3 separate regions of the Homo sapiens genome follow, and all the other regions are linked to region 3. The links come from fine-mapping of genetic effects on gene expression. A gene starts in region 3. Each other region holds a variant in brackets. All regions are shown on one strand. Distances are between the middles of the regions. Region 1 has its middle 34 kb from the start of DDX18. Region 2 has its middle 44 kb from the start of DDX18. Region 3 holds the start of DDX18 (DEAD-box helicase 18).

Region 1 (6,456 bases), 35 kb after region 3:
AGTGTAACATGGCACAGCCACAGTGGAAAACAGTTCACCAGTTCATCAATAAGTTAAACATAGAATTATCATATGACGCAACAATTCCACTCCAAAGGAAATGAAAACAGGGACTCCACCAGATACTTGTATGTCTATGTCTTTGCAGCCTTATTTACAATAACCAAAAGATGTAAACAGCCCAAATGTCCATCAACAGATGAATCCAGAAATAAAATGAGGTTTATATATTCCAACGGAAGATGAAAAGGGATGAAATTCTGACACATGCTACAAGATGGATGAACCTTGAAAACACTTTGCTAAGTGAAAATAGCCAGACACAAGAAGACAAATACTATACAATTTTACTTAAAGTATCTAGAATAGGCAAAACTAATAGAAAAATAAAGTTAATTAGAGGTTACCAGGGGTTGGGAGAAGGGAAAATGAGGAGTTATGGCTTCATGGTTAGACAGTTTTTGTTTGAGGTGATAAAAAAAAGTTTGGGAATAGTAGTGGTGGTTGCATATGTTGTGAAGGTAATTAATGCTGCTGAATTGTACACTTTAAAATGTTTAAAATGATAAATTTTATGTTTATAAAATGTAATATGTATATATGTGTGTATATATATACATATATATATATGTAAAACCACAATAAAAAATTAAATTAAATACCGCTCTAAGCATCCTGATGCCCAAGGCAAAGCGGGGAAATGAGGCTTCCATGCTAACAAGTTCAAGGCTGCTGGCTCTTGTCCCCATGGGCTAGATACCCTCCAACTGAGGACAGTTCTGATACCAACTGCGTCCTAGTCGCACACCAGATCTGCAACCCTATTCACACCCTTTGGTCACAAGTTATAGCGACTGTGCATGGCTCAGGGCAAACCATTTGCCTTCATGAGAAAGAAACTCAGAGTGAGGGGGTGTGGCCTCCTTGTTGAGGTCAGTTCATTTTACCCCAAATATGTGAAGTGGGATAATTTGGGAAGCAAGAGTGAAAGGGACAGATATGCTCTGGGCCTTACCAGGCGACAGCACTTTTGGTCCATTGGAAGGATGGGGTCTGGAAGCCCCTGGAGCCTCAGATTCCAACTACCCACTCCTACCCCCATCTTCCCTGTTTAAAAGTTCCATCAGGCAGAATTGAGCTCTCTTTGGCAATTCCAATTAATCTGGCCAATTCCCTCGAAATGTTTGTTCTTGTCCTTCTCCATTGCCCTTGCCTGGGTCCTTGTTCCTTTCACTCCCCGCTTGGATCCGTGGAAATTGTCACCCAAAAGGTTTCCTCCCTTCAAAGTAATCCCAGCACTAACTCATCATATAGACTGCTGGTAAAATAATACTCCTGCACACACAAATGCAACAGGAAAAGTCTGGTGGTGCCGTCAAGCAGCCTCTCTCAAACTCCCATCATAATGTGCCAACAGCCGGGAGGGGGAGGTGTCACTGCAATGGAGCTGTCGACAGTTGCTAAAACAGCCACACACCTTGTGAGACTTGAGTCACTGTTCTATTAGGTTGGTGCAAAATTAATTGCGGTTTTGCAAAACCACAATTAATTTGGCACCAACCTCGAATGTTGTAATACTCTACAACAAAATGAAAATGTAGTAATTTTCTTAAAAATAAGTAAAATTAGGAGTGATTGTTTCAACTACTGGTATCAACTATGATCATGAAATCTCTGCCACCCAGCCTAAACAATTATTCAGCATCACCTCCACCTAAATAACATTCAAGTCCCTCTTCTGCACCACTATGTCTCATTGTTCCTCACTGCTTGGGGGAGCTCAGGCATCTCAACCTGGCTGTCAAAATTCTTCCAAATCTAACTAAACACCATCTAGCTTATCCAAACCACATGTCTGCTTTGCCCACATAAAACTCGCCGTATCACAAACTAAGGATGTTCATTTTCAAATTGCTTAAGCAATTCCCTACCTAAAGTCCTCAGCGTTGTTCCTCCTCCTTTTCAATTCCTACTACCCACGAACAACAGCTCTCACTCCACCTCCTCCAGGAAGCTTCCCCTGACTACTCTCTCCCATTGATTTTTTTCCCCATAAATATGTTGTTTGAATGGAATGCTAAGTGATGACCTTTCATTGGTCACCATCTTTTATCACGATGGACCTGTTGAGTGTAGATTTCTTTTGTCCATTGAATTGTGCCTTCTTTATCCTACCTCATCATGATTCTTGTAGGTCAGGTTCGCTAGGACACAGACACTGAGACGGGGATTGGTATGCAGGGAATGTAGGAAGATTTGGGCCAAGGGGGAAGCTGAGGCATGACAGTTTTGACAAAAGTCACAGCTAACCCCACTGGGAAGTTGTGAAGCTGATCAGACCCTTCTGAGCCTCAAGTTGGGGCTGGGGCCTGGGCCTTTATATGCTGTGTTGATCATGTCTGAGGGCTGCTCCTGGAACAGGCAGCAGCCTTGTGTGAGGTGATTCCAGAAGAGGCTGTGTGGTGAGGTGAAGGCTGTTTGTGGAAGCTTTCCCAGCAGCCGAGAAGGGGAGTGATACGGTTTGCCTGTGTCTCCACCCAAATCTCAACTTGAATTGTATTTCCCAGAAAGGGACCCAGGGGGAGGTAATTGAATTATGGGGGCCAGTCTTTCCCGTGCTATTTTCATGATAGTGAATAAGTCTCATGAGATCTTATGGGTTTATCAGGGGTTTGCACTTTTGCTTCTTCCTCATTTTCTCTTGCCGCCGCCATGTAAGAAGTGCTTTTCACCTCCTGCCATGATTCTGAGGCCTCCCCAGCCATGTGGAACTGTAACTCCAATTAAACCTCTTTTTCTTCCCAGTCTCGGGTATGTCTTTATCAGCAGCTTGAAAATGGACTAAAACAGGGAGGGAGGGACAACTCAGTCCTTCAGTCCTGAAAGGGGGATCTTGGTGTCAACTATGATGGCCTTAAAAAAAAGAGAATGAAAGGAAAGGAGGAGAACGGAGGAAGAAGAGGAAAGACAGGAAACATCCATCACACTTGTTTGTCAGGTCTTATTTGGAACAGAGTGTGCCAAGGCAGTCACTCCCTGGAGGAGAGAGGCAAGCTGCAAGAAGGCCATGGGGACAATGTGCAGAGCAATGAAGCCTCCTGCCCATAGTGACTGTACCCGCGACCTGGTGGTGACCAGGCAGGCATTTGCACCTGCTGGGCTCCAGAGCTCCCCTTCTTTCTTCACTCGGTGACAGCAAACCAAGACTTGGGTCACATCATTTCTGGGTAAGTATGCGGAGATGCTGAAAGAACAGTGGGAGCAAAAAGAACAAGAATCTTGAACGTCTTCTGTTTTCTCTATGACCCTTAGAAACCCAAAGAAAATTTCACAGTAGGAAAATAATCCATTGCACAAACTGTATTTTTAAAGGTGAGAGCTGGCCGGGCGCGGTGGCTCATGCCTGTAATCC[C/T]ACCACTTTGAGAGGCTGAGGTGGGTGGATGACCTGAGGTCAGGAGTTCAAGACTACCCTAGCCAACATGGCAAAACCCCATCTCTACTAAAAACACAAAAATCAGCCGGGCATGGTGGCGCATGCCTGTAATCCCAGCTACTCAGGAGGCTGAGGCAGGAGAATCACTTGAACCCAGGAGGCGGAGGTTACAGTGAGCTGAGATCGCACCATTGCACTCCAGCCTGGGCAACAAGAGTGGAAACTCTGTCTCAAAAGAAAAAAAAAAAGTGAAAGGTACGTTTGCTTAGAGGAAGGGGATCCAGAGACTGGATTTCTGTAAAGTCCAGAAAAAAAGTTCAGATTTTGCAAGATAAAAACCATGTGCCTGGAATGTGCTGGAATCAGAAATTATAAACATCAAAGAAACTCTGAGGAGGAGGCGTGGTAAAGACTCTCTCCTACCACCCATAGGAAATCAAATTCCAGCAAAGACAAAGATCAGTACAGGAGAAGAAAGCCTGGGCGGAGAAAACGAGGGAACCCTGACGGAACCTGGGCAACTGGAAAGTATTACTCCTTCGAAATTCTGAAGTTCATTTACAGCTGCCAGTCAGCACACCAGGGAATCAGAAACCACCAGAGCCTTTCTCTGCAGCTGGAGAATTTGAATTCATTTCAGAAACTTCCTGGAGACGAATGAAAGGCAAGGGCTTCCAGAAATCAGAATACCTTCTGCCCCAGGGTCTTGGGCAGAATTGCCATTTTCATCACAGCACGTGAAGTAAGATAGTGAGTGAGGGGTTTTTCTTAGAATCTATACTTAAACTCATGCATTTTTCAAAATATTTCATGCTTTTCTCTAAAACCTTATAGCTATCATTCACTGACAAGCAATGCATGGGTAAGATATTTCTTTATGGCCCTCTATTGTCATCCTATTAATCTAGACATTAAACTTATAAGTATCATCTTGTCTTGATTTATTTTTCTAATCTATACTTTTCTCAATGATGTGTTTCCTAATTGACATTTCCAAATTACGAGCCTTGGGGTTCTTTTAATCATTTTGGTTTTTAAGCACTTTTTTATTTTGCTTCTCCGAAGTTAGTTAGAAATTGCAACTACTGGTTATTCCAGGGCTGATGGTTCAGTTACAGGCTCTGGGGCTAAATCCCCTGGTCCTGGCTACCCTGAACTTCACGCAGCTCTGAGTAGGGGAGTAAATTAGCCTGCAGGGGGAATGTGGGTAATTCTCGACCTCATTACAGCCCTCCTTTCCAATTTCGCCTTCCTACGAGCAGCTTAAAATGCAGAAGAGATCAGCTGAGACACACACTCTCCTCCACGTGCTCCCTCTCCCTCCCCACCTGATCCTGCTTCTATCCCCTCACCCCTCCTGATGAGGGAGGGAGGAGAGCACAACAGGTGGAAAGATGAGCCAGTGAGAATTTCAAACCCAGCGGAGTCCCCGCCCATGGGATGTGACCTGTTTGTACAGGATTCTTGCAGTTATTGGGTGGTCTTTATTATCATTGTTGACTCTGGGAAACTTTTCATTCTTGACCCAGAGTCTTCATTAGAGATCTTTTCATGAGAAAAAGGGCATTTTTAAGAGCTGAGGTTTGAATGCATGGAAATTTTTAAAAACTACCTTTGGTCATGTGAAAAGAAAGCAGCTGGCAGGTGGTGGGGGAAGGAGCCCATCTGCTAATTAAAACTCCAAGAGTAGTAGGAGGAACAACTACTCTAAGGCACTATCTTTCCCCACGTTCCTGCAAACAAATTAGCTTCAACACCCACACACAGTAGGAAAACAAATGCCAATTATGCCTCGATGTTTCCTTGAACCTGTTTTCTTTTCCCTGTCTCCAACTGATCCTTAACACTGCTTTGATAGTGGGCTGGAGATAAGCCCATTGCTTATCTGGAGAAATGATTTCCACCCACTTTTATTCTAAAGCAAATCCGCAGCACTGAGGAGGCTGGGACCAACATCAAGCCCAGATCCGTTTCCACACATAGAGCAAAACTCTTCATTTTGGTTGAGTACCAACAATAGTAGTTTATAACATAGGAAAGGAGTGTGCCTTTAATTATTGTATTTCAGTGTAAAACATAATCAGAGGTTAAAACAGTTTTATGAAGGCAGATAACATTATGGCATATATTAATGTATAGAGGATGCACATCCATTTATTTCCAACTGCAGATATAATGGGGTACCTGACTGGGACTAGATCAAATGATTTTGGCTTTATTCTTGGTTGCTTCCCAGTTTTGGCAAGTACGCAATTATGAATAAATATGCTACAAACAACGATGTGCAGGATTTTTTGTGTATATAACTTTATTTTCTCCATATGATTTTCTAAAATCCTGGTGGAGACAAGCAGTGGGTGAGGAAGAAAGATGGCTAAAGTTGCAGGCACTTTTTCAGTTTCTCTGGAGGCAGAGGTCTGAATTTCACCTGTGATGTCAAGCAATTTCTTTGTCTAAGCCTTTTGGTAATGCCAAAGTAAAGCAGCAATCCCTTCTGGAACAGAGAGGTTTAGGAGCAACAAGGAGGGAAACAGGGCTGCTTGGCCCCATAAAAGAGCATTTCCCTATATGTGGCAGGCTTCTCTGTTCATCACATTCCCTTTAGGGGAAAAAAATTTCTCTAAATGTGGATTTAGACTATCCCTAAAAAAATTTTGCTTGTTTCCCAGAGGGGTGTGTGTGTGTGCATGTGTGTTGGTGTGTGCACACCGACTTTCTTGTTCAGGAACTCACCCGTCTGTGTGGTTAGGAGCAGAATGAAGCTATGAAGGGAGCAGGAAGGATGAGGTGGCATGTCTTCATGACATGCTCTCTTTTTTAAACTTCACACCAGGTATCCTGGCAGATTTAATAACTCTGACCTCAGGAAAGTTCCCTCTTTTGGGGGTTTTGCACTGTTTAGGTGAGGAGAAGGACTAAGGCAAGGCCTTAGAAGGATCCTTTGTTTCTGATGGGAGTAGACATTCTGGGTACCAGATACCCTGGAGATGGGCTGGAATGTGAGGTCTGAGGAGTTGAGTCTC
Region 2 (6,456 bases), 44 kb before region 3:
AGGTGTAAGGAAGGGATCCAGTTTCAGCTTTCTACATATGGCTAGCCAGTTTTCCCAGCACCATTTATTAAATAGGGAATCCTTTCCCCATTGCTTGTTTTTCTCAGGTTTGTCAAAGATCAGATAGTTGTAGATATGCGGTGTTATTTCTGAGGGCTCTGCTCTGTTCCATTGATCTATATCTCTGTTTTGGTACCAGTACCATGCTGTTTTGCTTACTGTAGCCTTGTAGTGTAGTTTGAAGTCAGATAGTGTGATGCCTCCAGCTTTGTTCTTTTGGCTTAGGATTGACTTGGTGATGCAGGCTCTTTTTCGGTTCCATATGAACTTTAAAGTAGTTTTTTCCAATTCTGTGAAGAAAGTCATTGGTAGCTTGATGGGGATGGCATTGAATCTATAAATTACCTTGGGCAGTATGGCCATTTTCATGATATTGATTCTTCCTACCCATGAGCATGGAATGTTCTTCCATTTGTTTGTATCCACTTTTATTTCATTGAGCAGTGGTTTGTAGTTCTCCTTGAAGAGGTCCTTCACATCCCTTGTAAGGTGGATTCCTAGGTATTTTATTCTCTTTGAAGCAATTGTGCATGGGAGTTCACTCATGATTTGGCTCTCTGTTTGTCTGTTATTTGTGTATAAGAATGCTTGTGATTTTTGTACATTGATTTTGTATCCTGAGACTGCTGAAGTTGCTTATCGGCTTAAGGAGATTTCGGGCTGAGATGATGGGGTTTTCTAGATATACAATCATGTCGTCTGCAAACAGGGACAATTTGACTTCCTCTTTTCCTGACTGAATACCCTTTATTTCCTTCTCCTGCCTAATTGCCCTGGCCAGAACTTCCAACACTATGTTGAATAGGAGTGGTGAGAGAGGGCATTCCTGTCTTGTGCCAGTTTTCAAAGGGAATGCTTCCAGTTTCTGCCCATTCAGTATGATATTGGCTGTGGGTTGGTCATAGATAGCTCTTATTATTTTGAGATACGTCCCATCAATACCTGATTTATTGAGAGTTTTTATCATGAAGGTTGTTGAATTTTGTCAAAGGCCTTTTCTGCATCTATTGAGATAATCATGTGGTTTTTGTCTTTGGTTCTGTTTATATGCTGGATTACATTTATTGATTTGCTTATATTGAACCAGCCTTGCATCCCAGGGATGAAGCCCACTTGATCATGGTGGATAAGCTTTTTGATGTGCTGCTGGATTCGCCTTGACAGTATTTTACTGAGGATTTTTGCATCAATGTTCATCAAAGATATTGGTCTAAAATTATCTTTTTTGGTTGTGTCTCTGCCCAGCTTAGGTATCAGGATGATGCTGGCCTCATGAGTTAGGGAGGATTCCCTCTTTTTCTACTGATTGGAATAGTTTCAGAAGGAATGGTACCAGTTCCTCCTTGTACCTCTGGTAGAATTTGGCTGTGAATCCATCTGGTCATGGACTCTTTTTGGTTGGTAAGCTATTGATTATTGCCAGAATTTCAGATCCTGTTATTGGCCTATTCAAAGATTCAACTTCTTCCTGGTTTAGTCTTGGGAGGGTGTATGTGCCGAGGAATTTATCCATTTCTTCTAGATTTTCGAGTTTATTTGCATAGAGGTGTTTGTAGTATTCTCTGATGGTAGTTTGTATTTCTGTAGGATCGGTGGTGATATCCCCTTTATCATTTTTTTATTACATCTATTTGATTCTTCTCCCTTTTTTTCTTTATTAGTCTTGCTAGCAGTCTATCAATTTTGTTAATCCTTTCAAAAAATCAGCTCCTGGATTCATTAATTTTTTGAAGGGATTTTTATGTCTCTATTTCCTTCAGTTCTGCTCTGATTTTAGCTATTTCTTGCCTTCTGCTAGCTTTTGAATGTGTTTGCACTTGCTTTTCTAGTTCTTTTAATTGTGATGTTAGGGTGTCAATTTTGGATCTTTCCTGCTTTCTGTTGTGGGCATTTAGTGCTATACATTTCCCTCTACACACTGCTTTGAATGTGTCCCAGAGATTCTAGTATGTTGTGTCTTTGTTCTCGTTGGTTTCAAAGAACATCTTTATTTCTGCCTTCATTTCGTTATGTATCCAGTAGTCATTCAGGAGCAGGTTGTTCAGTTTCCATGTAGTTGAGCGGTTTTGAGTGAGTTTCTTAATCCTGAGTTTTAGTTTGATTGCACTGTGATCTGAGAGACAGTTTGTGATAATTTCTGTTCTTTCACATTTGCTGAGGAGAGCTTTACTTCCCACTATGTGGTCAATTTTGGAATAGGTGTGGTGTGGTGCTGAAAAAAATGTATATTCTGTTGATTTGGGGTGGAGAGTTCTGTAGATGTCTGTTAGGTCCGCTTGGTGCAGAGCTGAGTTCAATTCCTGAGTATCCTTGTTAACTTTCTGTCTCGTTGATCTGTCTAGTGTTGACAGTGGGGTGTTAAAGTCTCCCATTATTATTGTGTGGGAGTCCTAAGTCTCTTTGTAGGTCACTCAGGACTTGCTTTATGAATCTGGGTGCTCCTGTATTGGGTGCATATATATTTAGGATCAAACTTGTATTTTTAAACTCCAAGCTATTTACAGAAGACAGTTTACATCCAGAGCAGCCCAATGGTGTATGTCCTAGTTGATAAAGGAATTCAGTATCTGGAGATGTCAGGCAAAGTTCCAGTGAGGAAGGAGCACTAAGTGACTTTAAAAAGATAAAGAAGAAGAAGAAGAAGGGGGAAAGGGAAGAAAACCTCCCTCGTTCCTGAGGAAGCAGGACATAAAAACCACTGTGGGGTCACCCTGGTAAAGAGGGTACAAATGAATGAAATCCCTTTCTTTCCATGGATAAGTCAATAATGTGGTGGGTTTTCTTTCCAGGATAGAGGACAGAGAAGAAACCAAAGAGTTATGTAGTCAAGTTGTTGAATACTTTTAGCTGAGTAATATTGCCAGTGAGGGTTACAAACATGCTTTGATTTTCTCACAGACATTAAAAAAC[T/C]ATATTTAATCTAGCTTGGCTGCAGTAGAGTGGAGTAGATAGAAAAGGGGCACAAGTTTAGTGACCTCGCACCTGGCCATGTCCTAGAAAAGTGGTCAGATGGATAATGTACAGAGTAAAGCTCACTGGGTATAATACACAGATGCAGGCAGGAGACCAGCAACATGTACCTGAGAGGCAAATTTGACCCTTGGTCAGCCAAATTAAGACTTCTAGACCCAGAAGTTCTAGGGTGGTGGACATAATGGACTTGCATGGTGTGATGCTTAATTTTATGTGTTAACTTGACTGAGCCACAGAATGCCTAGATATTTGATGAAACATCATTTAAGCATGCCTGTGGGACTGTTTCTGGGTGAGATTAATGTTTGAATTGGTAGACTTAGTAAAGCAGATTACCCTACCTAATGTAGGTGAGCATTATCCAATCCCTTGAAGGCCTGAATAGAACAAAAAGAATAAATAAGAAAGAATTCTCTCTCTCTCCATCTGACTATCTTCAAACTGGGACATCAATCATTTTCTGTCTTCATACTCAAACTTAGATTGGAAATTACACCATCTACTCTCCTGGGACTTCAGCTGACTGACATCAGATCTTGGGACTTCTCAGTCTTCAAACCATGTGAGCCAATTCCATACATACAAACATACACACACACACACACACACAGACACACACACACACACACACACACCCTGTTGGTTTCTCTGGAGAAGCCTGACTAATATGCACAATGACCCTTGAGTGCATAAATCAGGTCCCACCAAGACAAACAAGTCAAGAGAGAGACAGATACAGACAAAGTAAACAAACAGAAATAGAGCAGACATACAGATACAGAGCAGCAAGACACACAGAGACAGAAAGGAACAGAACAGACAAAATCAAAGACAAACAGGCAAGACATCAAGAGAGCAGACAGACACAGAGACGTATACATAAACAGAAACAAAAACATAGACAAAGATAGAAAATGAGAAAAAATACAGTATTTCATGGTGTTCTCTGTGATTTCCTCATAGAGCTTTATTTCAGTGTTTCAGAAAGCACATCTAAGGAGAAGACAAGCCACATATATTTTAATCACACCTCTACCCTGTCTGAATCTTCTGTCAAATGTACCTGTCAGCGACTTACCTGAGCCGACTGCACAGTACCCAGGAAGAAATGATGAGCTCGGATATCTCACAGATACTCAGATACTAACCTGAAACTGCAAGAGAAGACTGAGACCTGGTCTCACCTTTGCAGATAACACTGTGTAAAGACAGCACACTGTAGACTGGGCATCTAAACAAGCTGCCAACTAGAGTCACCTGGGGAGCTGGCCCATGCCAGACCAATTAAATCAGAATCTCCAGGGCTGGGGCATTGGCATGTTTTTAAAGTACCTCAGGGAACCCAGGAAGCAAAAGTAGTTCTGCCATTTAAGGCCATATTCCTAGTTTGCATAGTTTAAACTTGAGTGAGAGCAACACAAGTGGCCAGATTTGCTGACATTTTTTTACCTGGGCACAGGACAGTTACCACTTGAAACCCATGAGGTCTACTTTCCATGCCACTTCCAAACCCCAAAAAGCATGGAATAATCACAAAAGCATGTTGTCACTGGGTAACCAGGCTAAATGCTCTACATATATCACCTCATTTAATCTTCACAGCATCTTGTGATGTAGAGATTATCTCCATTTTCCAGGTAACAAAATTGAAATCAGTGAGACGAAATCGTTTACCAAGGTTAAATAGGTAGGACGCAGCTAAGGCAGGATTTGCAACCAGATCTTCTGCTCTGCTGCATGGAAAACACACTGAGAGGAGACTCTTCGGTTTAGTCCTCTCATGCTTTGTGATGTCTCCTGCACAGATGGTGCTGACAATGAAAACCAGCATTGCCTTCTGCCAGAGCACAGGGCCACACACAGGAGGCACCTGGGACTTCTGTCTCAGTGACTTTATTCTGACCTCGCCAACTGTACAATACACTGTCACTTAGCTTAGCCTTGTCTGAGAGAAGACACAATTAGAGCAAGAGCCCACCAAGAGTAAGAGAGGGTGTAGGAGCTTAAGCTTCTTCATTGACTTTAATTAAGCTCACCAGAGAAGTAGATCGCAAGGGATCCCACAGAACTTTTTTTTAAAGTTTTATTTATATTATTCTTAATTCCAATTTAATGGAAAAAAAAATGTTTCCATTCAAACCTCTTCCACCAGTGTAGGGTTTTCTCTATCTATTAAGAAACAGTGCCATCTACTGACTCGTTTTCACTCTGGTTCTTGTAAACCAGGAAAAAAAAATTAATGTTGCTTATGCCTTAATTTTGAACACTTTCCAAGACATGTCCTTCCTTTCAAAATATCTGTTCTGCAGTTAAACCCATACATATTATTTTATTTCATAGCCACAAATGACAAATGGGTTTGGAATTAGACTGGGACTTTCAAGTAATATGTCTTGAAAAATGGAGTCTACAAATCAAGACTTTGTAAGGTGGGGCACCCAGATGGCAGGTGTTTAGATGTGAAGCTAGGAGGCCAAGGTGCCCTGCACAATGGTGACCTCACCTGTTCACCTAAGCCTGCTTGGGGGCTGTACAGCCAACCCAGAAGGGCATGAACCCTACATTCCAAAATATCAAATACCGAAGAATCAACTTGAAACTAGATACATTTTGACTGCTACACAGAAAAATGATAAAATATTACTAAGAGAAATTAAAGAATATCTAAATAAATGAAATTGGGGATTTCAATCCAAGGAATTGAACTGAATTGATTGAATGAAGGGATTTCTCAATACAAGGGACTCATTCACAACAAGGGTAAAATAGCCCCGAAAGGGAAAAGTGTTAGGTTTTAGGATGATAAAAAAATCTTCTTATATGCAAAGCAAAGATATACAGTATACCTGTGGTATTAAAATTTCACAGTAGGAGAAGTTAGGGAAAAAAGTAAAAAAAAAAAACCGGGGGGCTCCTTCAGTTTCAGGGGGAGCATAGGAAAAAAATTGGAAAGAACTGGATAGGAGGTTTAAAGGTTTAATATTGTAAACATGTGAATCCTTCCAAATGATCTATAGATTCAATGCACTTCTAATCAAAATCCCAACAGGGTGTATGTCTGTGCATGTGTTTATGGGTGCACACTGTGTGTGTGTGTGTGTGTGTGTGAGAGAGAGAGAGACAGACAGAATTGATAAGCTGGCAGTAAATGTGTATTGAAGAAAAAGGAAAGGTAAAAGGTGCTCGACCATATATCAAGGCCTATGATAACATTACAGTAATTAAGACAGCGTGGTACTGGTTCAACAATAGGCAAAGAGACTGATGGTATAAACTAGAGAACCCAGAAACAGATTCATGGACATTTGAACGGTGGTTCACAGAACAGTGGAGAAAGGACTGTCTGTCAACGAATGCTTCTTAGATTTCCATATGAAAAAAATTAAAGCCAACCCTTAATTCATAATTTCTGATGGACTCTAG
Region 3 (6,456 bases):
CCTGCAAATCTCCTCTTATGCTCCTGACTACAAATCTGCTCTTGATCCCTTGAATTGTTACTTAATAGCATATTAAGACTTGTCTTTGACAGCCTTTTCTCTGACCTTAGATCTTTGCCTCCTCAAAAAATACCTCCCACCTGAATAGCATGCTGTCCTGCCCTCCCACCCATCCCTCTTTATTATATTGCATTGTCTGGTTGTAATGTCTTCCCAGCATTTAGCTTCATGCAAAGGTATCTTGTTCAATCACAAGGTTTACTTATACCTGTCGTCTCTTATCCAGGCTGTAATCTCCCTGGAAATGAGGACTTTTCCTGTCTTGTTTACTGCTGATCCCTGAGGCCTAAAACAGTACCTGGAATGGATAGATGGTATTTTTTTAAATTAATAAATGAATAAACTTCTTGACAGAAAAGTTTCTGTTATATGTTTCTGTATCCTCTCCAGCTCCTAGGACCACTGCAATAATGACTTGTCATGAATTGTGGTGATGCTCTTTAAAATAATCTCTCACTCTTATGTCCATCAGTTCACTGAAGAAAACCTTTCTTAAGTACCAGCCATCTGCTTTCTACAATGTAGAAATACACAGAACCAGATGCTGGTCCAGGAAAGTCAGGTAATGTGAAGGAGGCAACATCATGCTTATTTACAATAACATAGCACTTTTTAAGTTCCAATACACAACAGAGTGGTTAACCTTATAGAAAATAGCATTTGAAAGTTCCTAGAAAATCACTTCAAGAGTCCTAATGCAGTGATCCGAGAGGATGAGTCAGTTATTTCTGGCTCACAATTCTATGATGTTGGTGAAATAGATTGATTTCTTTTCCCAGTGAAGTGGGACGTTTTTAATTTGAATGACAAACTACACAAATCTGCGTTTTATTTTACAAACACTTGTCTCAGGTTTAAGGATCTCAAGTGAAAACTGAAAAACAAAACAGCATGAATAAGACCTGTTCTATGTTAAACTTAATTATTTTTAGTCAGGAGGTAAAAGACAGAAACTCCTGGCCAGGTGCGGTGGCTCATGCCTGTAATCTCAGCACTTTAGGAGGCTGAGGCGGATGGATCACCTGAGGTCAGGAGTTCGAGACCAGCGTGAATAACATGGAGAAACCCTGTCTCTACTAAAAATGCAAAATTATCTGGGTATAGTGGTGCATGCTTGTAATCCCAGCTACTTGGGAGGCTGAGGCAGGAGAATCACTTGAACCCAGAGGCGGAGGTTGCGGTAAGCCAAGTTCGCGCCATTGAACTCCAGCCTGGGCAACAAGAGCAAAACTCTGTCTCAAAACACACAAACAAACCAACAAAAAAAAGACAGCAACTCCCTTCCTGCTTCTGCCTGCTGCTGGCTCAGTCCCTATGCATAATGAATATTGAATGACAGACTCCATCCCCAGACCCCTTCCCAAGGCTAGGATGTTGCTCCTGTGATGTGCTTCCTTTTCACTGCATTCATCATAGTTTACCATAATCGTTTAATTTTCTGTCTTCCTTGTAAGCTCTGTAAGCTCCACCTAGGCGAGCCAGGTCTATCTTGTCCACCATTTTATACCCAGGATTTGGCACATGCCTACCACACACTCTTAGCACAAAAATGCTCAAAAAATAGTTGCATAATGACTATATTATGCGATTGTTTTATGGCGAATGACCATATTCTGAAGAGAGAGACCTCTGTGATGGAGAGCCCAAGCAAGAAGTTTTAAAGACTGAAACGCATTCTGAATAGATACTGGGATAGGCTCCAGCTGTGAAGAACAACAGGCTTTTCAGAAGCACGTGATTGTTACCTCATCCTCACAGGTAATTTTTGAGTAGCTAACCCAATGACATTGTTTTCTTTGCTAGAGTAACTGATGATGTGGCCTTGGAAATTCACTCTGTTAAAAATAACTCTCAACCCTAATTTTGAGAGTTGATTTGAAGTTATAATTTCTCATTCTTCTTCTAAAAATCCAGAAGAATTGGCATCAGTAGCTTTATCTATGTTTCTTAAAAGGTTATCAATCCCTAACGTTAAGCATTTCCATGCACCTGAAAGGATCGGCTTCTCTGATCTAAATGTCTTAAACACCTCGTAAATGTGGGTTTTTTTGGTTTTGAGGAAATGACTGCCAATCTTCACTACTAGCTAGAAAAAGTCACACTCTAGAAAAAAGGGAGTACCTTTCCATTACTACTACCAAAACATAGCCCCACAAATTTAAGTTACAACATAAAAGAAATAACAAATTTTGAGCACTTTCTATATATACTTCAGTTGTATCTATTTCAAAGTCACAGACCCAAAACTCACACATGTAATCAGGTAAATATATATGTATGTACATAGAGCTATAGAAATAGATACATATGTGTATATGCATATATATACTGATATATGCATAAATTTAAACTGGCATATATATTTACACTGAGATAAATGTTTGCGTGTGTGTGTGCGCTCTTACATTTCTGAATCATTCTTCAGCCTGCCTGATCATTAACAAATTAATCTAAGCACATTATTATTTGTTTGTCTTAGTTTTCCAGTCCAATCCAATGTGATTTCGAAGTCAATTCCTTCACATTCTGTTTAAACTCCCTCCCAAGTTTTCTCCCTCTCTGTTCCTCACTATGATCAGGTCTAATCTCCAGGGTCTCATGTTCTGCCCCTCCAAGTAAACAAATTAATCCAGGTTTCATGGACTCTTCCAGTTGTTCAGCTCAAATTGATTACTGTTAAGGGGAATTTGAGGGCATTGGGCCAATTTTTAAAGACAAATATGAATTTTTATGGAAATCTCCAAGTATTTTAATGTTGATAACAATTTTTTTAAAAATTAAATACTATATGCATACCCCTGTCTTCCTCCCCATCCCAAAAAAGAGATGACTATTAGCTAGCCACATTGCAATTTCTGTCCTGGACTGCTGAAGGGTCCTTGGGTATACTTAAGGAATATATAAACCTCTTTTTCAAACTGCAGTCAACCTATTATTAATGTAGTAAAGTTAATTTAAATTCATAGGAATCAGTATTTTTAGTAAGCTAAAAAGAATAATTTAGGATGGAATGAATGGAATTGAAGGAAAAAGAGTGAAAAGCAAGAATATTATTTTGAGAAATGTTATATTTATGTGTGTATGTGTACCAAGTGACACAGAAATTGTATTTCTGAGGAGAGTGGCCAAACAAGTTTGGAAATGCATATATATAATTTAGTTCTATTCAGTTTCCCAAATACAGTTGTCCCTCAGTATCCACAAGGGATTGAGTCCAGGACCCTCTATGGGTACCAATATCTTAGGATACTCAAAACCCTTATATACAATAGTGTAATATTTGCATTTATTTTACACACAACATCCTGTATACTTTAAATCATTTCTAAATGACTTATAATACCTTATACAACCTAAATGCTATGAAAGTAGTTATCACACTGTATTATTTTTAATTGTTTTTTTTTTAATGTTTTCAATGGGGGAGTTGGTTGAATCCACAGACAGGGAATTCAGGTACAGGGAGGGCCAACTCTAGTTCTGCACCCACAGAGGATAGGAACATAAAAATGCGGACTCCCTAAGGCCTCCTTCCCCTCCACGTTCTTTCTTCAGTCTTCCTCTAGGGGGAGCTCAAGTTAGCTTTAGCACAGTGTGAAGCCAGTGCAGCGTCTCGCTTCCACTTCTCCAGGGGGCGCTGCAAAGATTTTGGTCGCCAAAGATATCACGGTGCGCGCGTCTGGAAGCATTTCCGCTCTGGAGCATTTTCGTTCCGCCGGGTGCCAGCGTTCCTGTGACGCGTTTCCTGTTGGCCGAGCTGCGCACGTGCGGCCGGAAGGGAAGTAACGTCAGCCTGAGAACTGAGTAGCTGTACTGTGTGGCGCCTTATTCTAGGCACTTGTTGGGCAGAATGTCACACCTGCCGATGAAACTCCTGCGTAAGAAGATCGAGAAGCGGAACCTCAAATTGCGGCAGCGGAACCTAAAGTTTCAGGGTGAGATGCGTTGACTCGCGGTGGCTCAGAAGACCCACGCGCGAGCCCTGGCGCGTTCGGGCGGCCGGGGGCCCAGCTGCTCTGTGTGACGGAGGCAGCTTCCCCTGCAGCGTGTGTGATTGGGGAGAGTGAAAAGGCAGCTTCCACTCGGGACCCGCGCTGCTGCCCACTCGTCGCGTGGCTCCAGCGCTGCTCCTGACCTTTCTGAGCAATCAGTGTCTTCTTACAACGTTAGAGCGGGAGGACTCCCCGTTCACTTCTAGGCTTACGACTAACCCTGCCTTTTGCATTTCCACCTTAGCTTTTGGTTCCCTCACCACCTGCAAGTCGCACCTCACCTCATCCCTCATTTCCGGTTATGCTGCATGAAACGTCTCATTTCCACCCACTTTTCACATCTATTTAATTCCCGTATTTCTTTCCCCAAAAGCCCGTCTGGCTGTTTCCACAGAGCTTCTTTGATACTATTGCCTTCCTCTACCCACTTCCACACGTTCTCGTAGCACTTTCTCACCAGAGCTTCTACGTATTTGTGTCCCGCACAGTGACCTAAATGAAAAGGATTTTATCTGAATGTCACCTTTCTTACCTACCTCATTTGCAGTCCCAGTGTCCTGACAGTGGGGCCACAGATCTTGAAGTAATTGTGTTAACCTGTTGTCCAGGTTAAGATACAAACTCCCCGAGGGAAAGTTTGGAGGCACAGTGCCTTGCCCCAGTTGGTTTTCAACAGACATTAATTGAAAAAAAATTCTGCAGGAGGCAATAGGTTTGTGAATTTTAGGAATATGTTTTGAAATACTCTTGTATTTCTAATTCCTATAGAATAATACTACAGCATTACTACTTTTCAGCGCATATGTAAGTAAATTTGAACAAAAGATGGTGTTTTATCTTTTTCAGTAAACAAACAGGGAACCTTTGGTAAGGACATTCTCAGGTACAGTCATGCATCGCATAACAGGAGGGGGGATACATTGTGAGAAATGTGTCATTAGGGGCTTTTGTCGTTTTGCGAACTTTATCTAGTTACACAAACCTAAATCTACTACACACCCAGGCTACATGATATAGCCTGTTGCTCGTAAGCTGTCATCCTGTACAGCATGTTACTGTACTATACTCAGAGAATTGTAACACAATGGTAAGTGTATGTATGGCTAAATATATCTAAACATAGAAAAGGTACAGTAAAAAGACTATGACATGAGAGATTTAGAAAATGGTACCTCTGTATACAGTACTTACCATGAATGGAGTTTGCAGGACTGGAAGTTACCCTGAGCGAGTCAGTGAGCGGTGAGTGAATGTGAAGGCCTAGAACATTACTGTACACTATAGACTTTATAAACACTGTACACTTGGGCTACACTGTTGAGTTTTTTAATACTTTTATTCTTAAATTAACCTTAGCCTGCTGTAACTTTTACATTATAAACTTGTTAAATTTTAACCTTTTGACTTTAATAACACTTAGCTTACAACACAAGCACATTGTACATACAGCTGTACAAAAAGTTTCCTTTTGTCCTTATTCTATGTGATTTTTATTTTATTTTTTTTTCTTTTTAAGCTTTTTGTTAAAAATGTAAAGACACAGACACATTCAGTTTCACTGTCTTCCGCTTCCACATCTTGTCCCACTGGAAGATCTTCAGGGGCAACAATAGGCATGGAGCTGTCATCTCCTATGATAACAGTGCCTTCTAAAATACCTCTCTCCCTGAGGCTCTTTTACAGTCGACTCATTTTTTTTTAATAAGTAAAAGGAGTAAACTCTAAAATGATGATCAAAAGTATAGTAAACACATAAACAAGTAACATAGTTTATTATCACGTATTATGTATTGTACATAATTATGTGTGCTGTACTTTATACGACTGGCATTACAGTAGATTTGTTTATACTAGCATCACTACAAACATGAGTAATATGTTGCACTACGACATTGCAGTTACTGATGGCACTAGGTGATAGGAATTTTTTAGCTCCGTTATAATCTTATGGAGCCACTGTATATGTTGTCCTTAATTCACAGAAATGTCATTGTGCACGCATTACTGTATTTGCATATGATAAATATTGGAGCAAATAAGTGGTCTTATCAACTGAATTTTCAACTCACTGCAGTCTAGAAGAGTTGGGGTTGAATGTTTTGAAGTGGTATGAAAAATAGTACTTGTGTGAATGAGTTGTAAATGTCTTTTTCAATATATCAGTTAATCATATGTTTATCAAATACTTATGTTTATTCTGTAACTGCCATTATCTGACCTCATCTGTTTAAATATTTGACCTCATTGAAGTTTTCCTGTCCTAGACTCCTTAAAGTCAGATGTACGGTCTTTTGCAGTTAAGAAATCAATATAGCTTTCCCTTTTCCAGTATTTTTTCTTTAAGATAACTTACTTTCCCTATAAGGGAACACCATAAAACTATAAGTTGTTTTAATTACATGAA

What was found.
Region 1: its variant is fine-mapped to the expression of DDX18 in T cells (TOPMed, PIP above 0.99). The same link has a PIP of 0.9 or more in fibroblasts.
Region 2: its variant is fine-mapped to the expression of DDX18 in whole blood (INTERVAL, PIP 0.96).

The regions. Positions count from the first base shown.
Region 1 is chr2:117,845,423-117,851,878 of GRCh38, forward strand. No RefSeq gene overlaps it. Among named protein-coding and RNA genes, the nearest start is that of DDX18, 34 kb to the left of the region's middle. The variant C/T (reference allele first, on the strand shown) is at 3,413.
Region 2 is chr2:117,767,197-117,773,652 of GRCh38, forward strand. No RefSeq gene overlaps it. Among named protein-coding and RNA genes, the nearest start is that of DDX18, 44 kb to the right of the region's middle. The variant T/C (reference allele first, on the strand shown) is at 2,971.
Region 3 is chr2:117,810,868-117,817,323 of GRCh38, forward strand. DDX18 (DEAD-box helicase 18) reads left to right here and starts at 3,824. Exons shown (of 14, transcript NM_006773.4): 1 at 3,824-3,995. The coding sequence starts at 3,911. RefSeq lists enhancers at 3,586-3,880, 3,608-4,145, 3,691-3,820, 3,951-4,000, 4,021-4,070 and 1 more.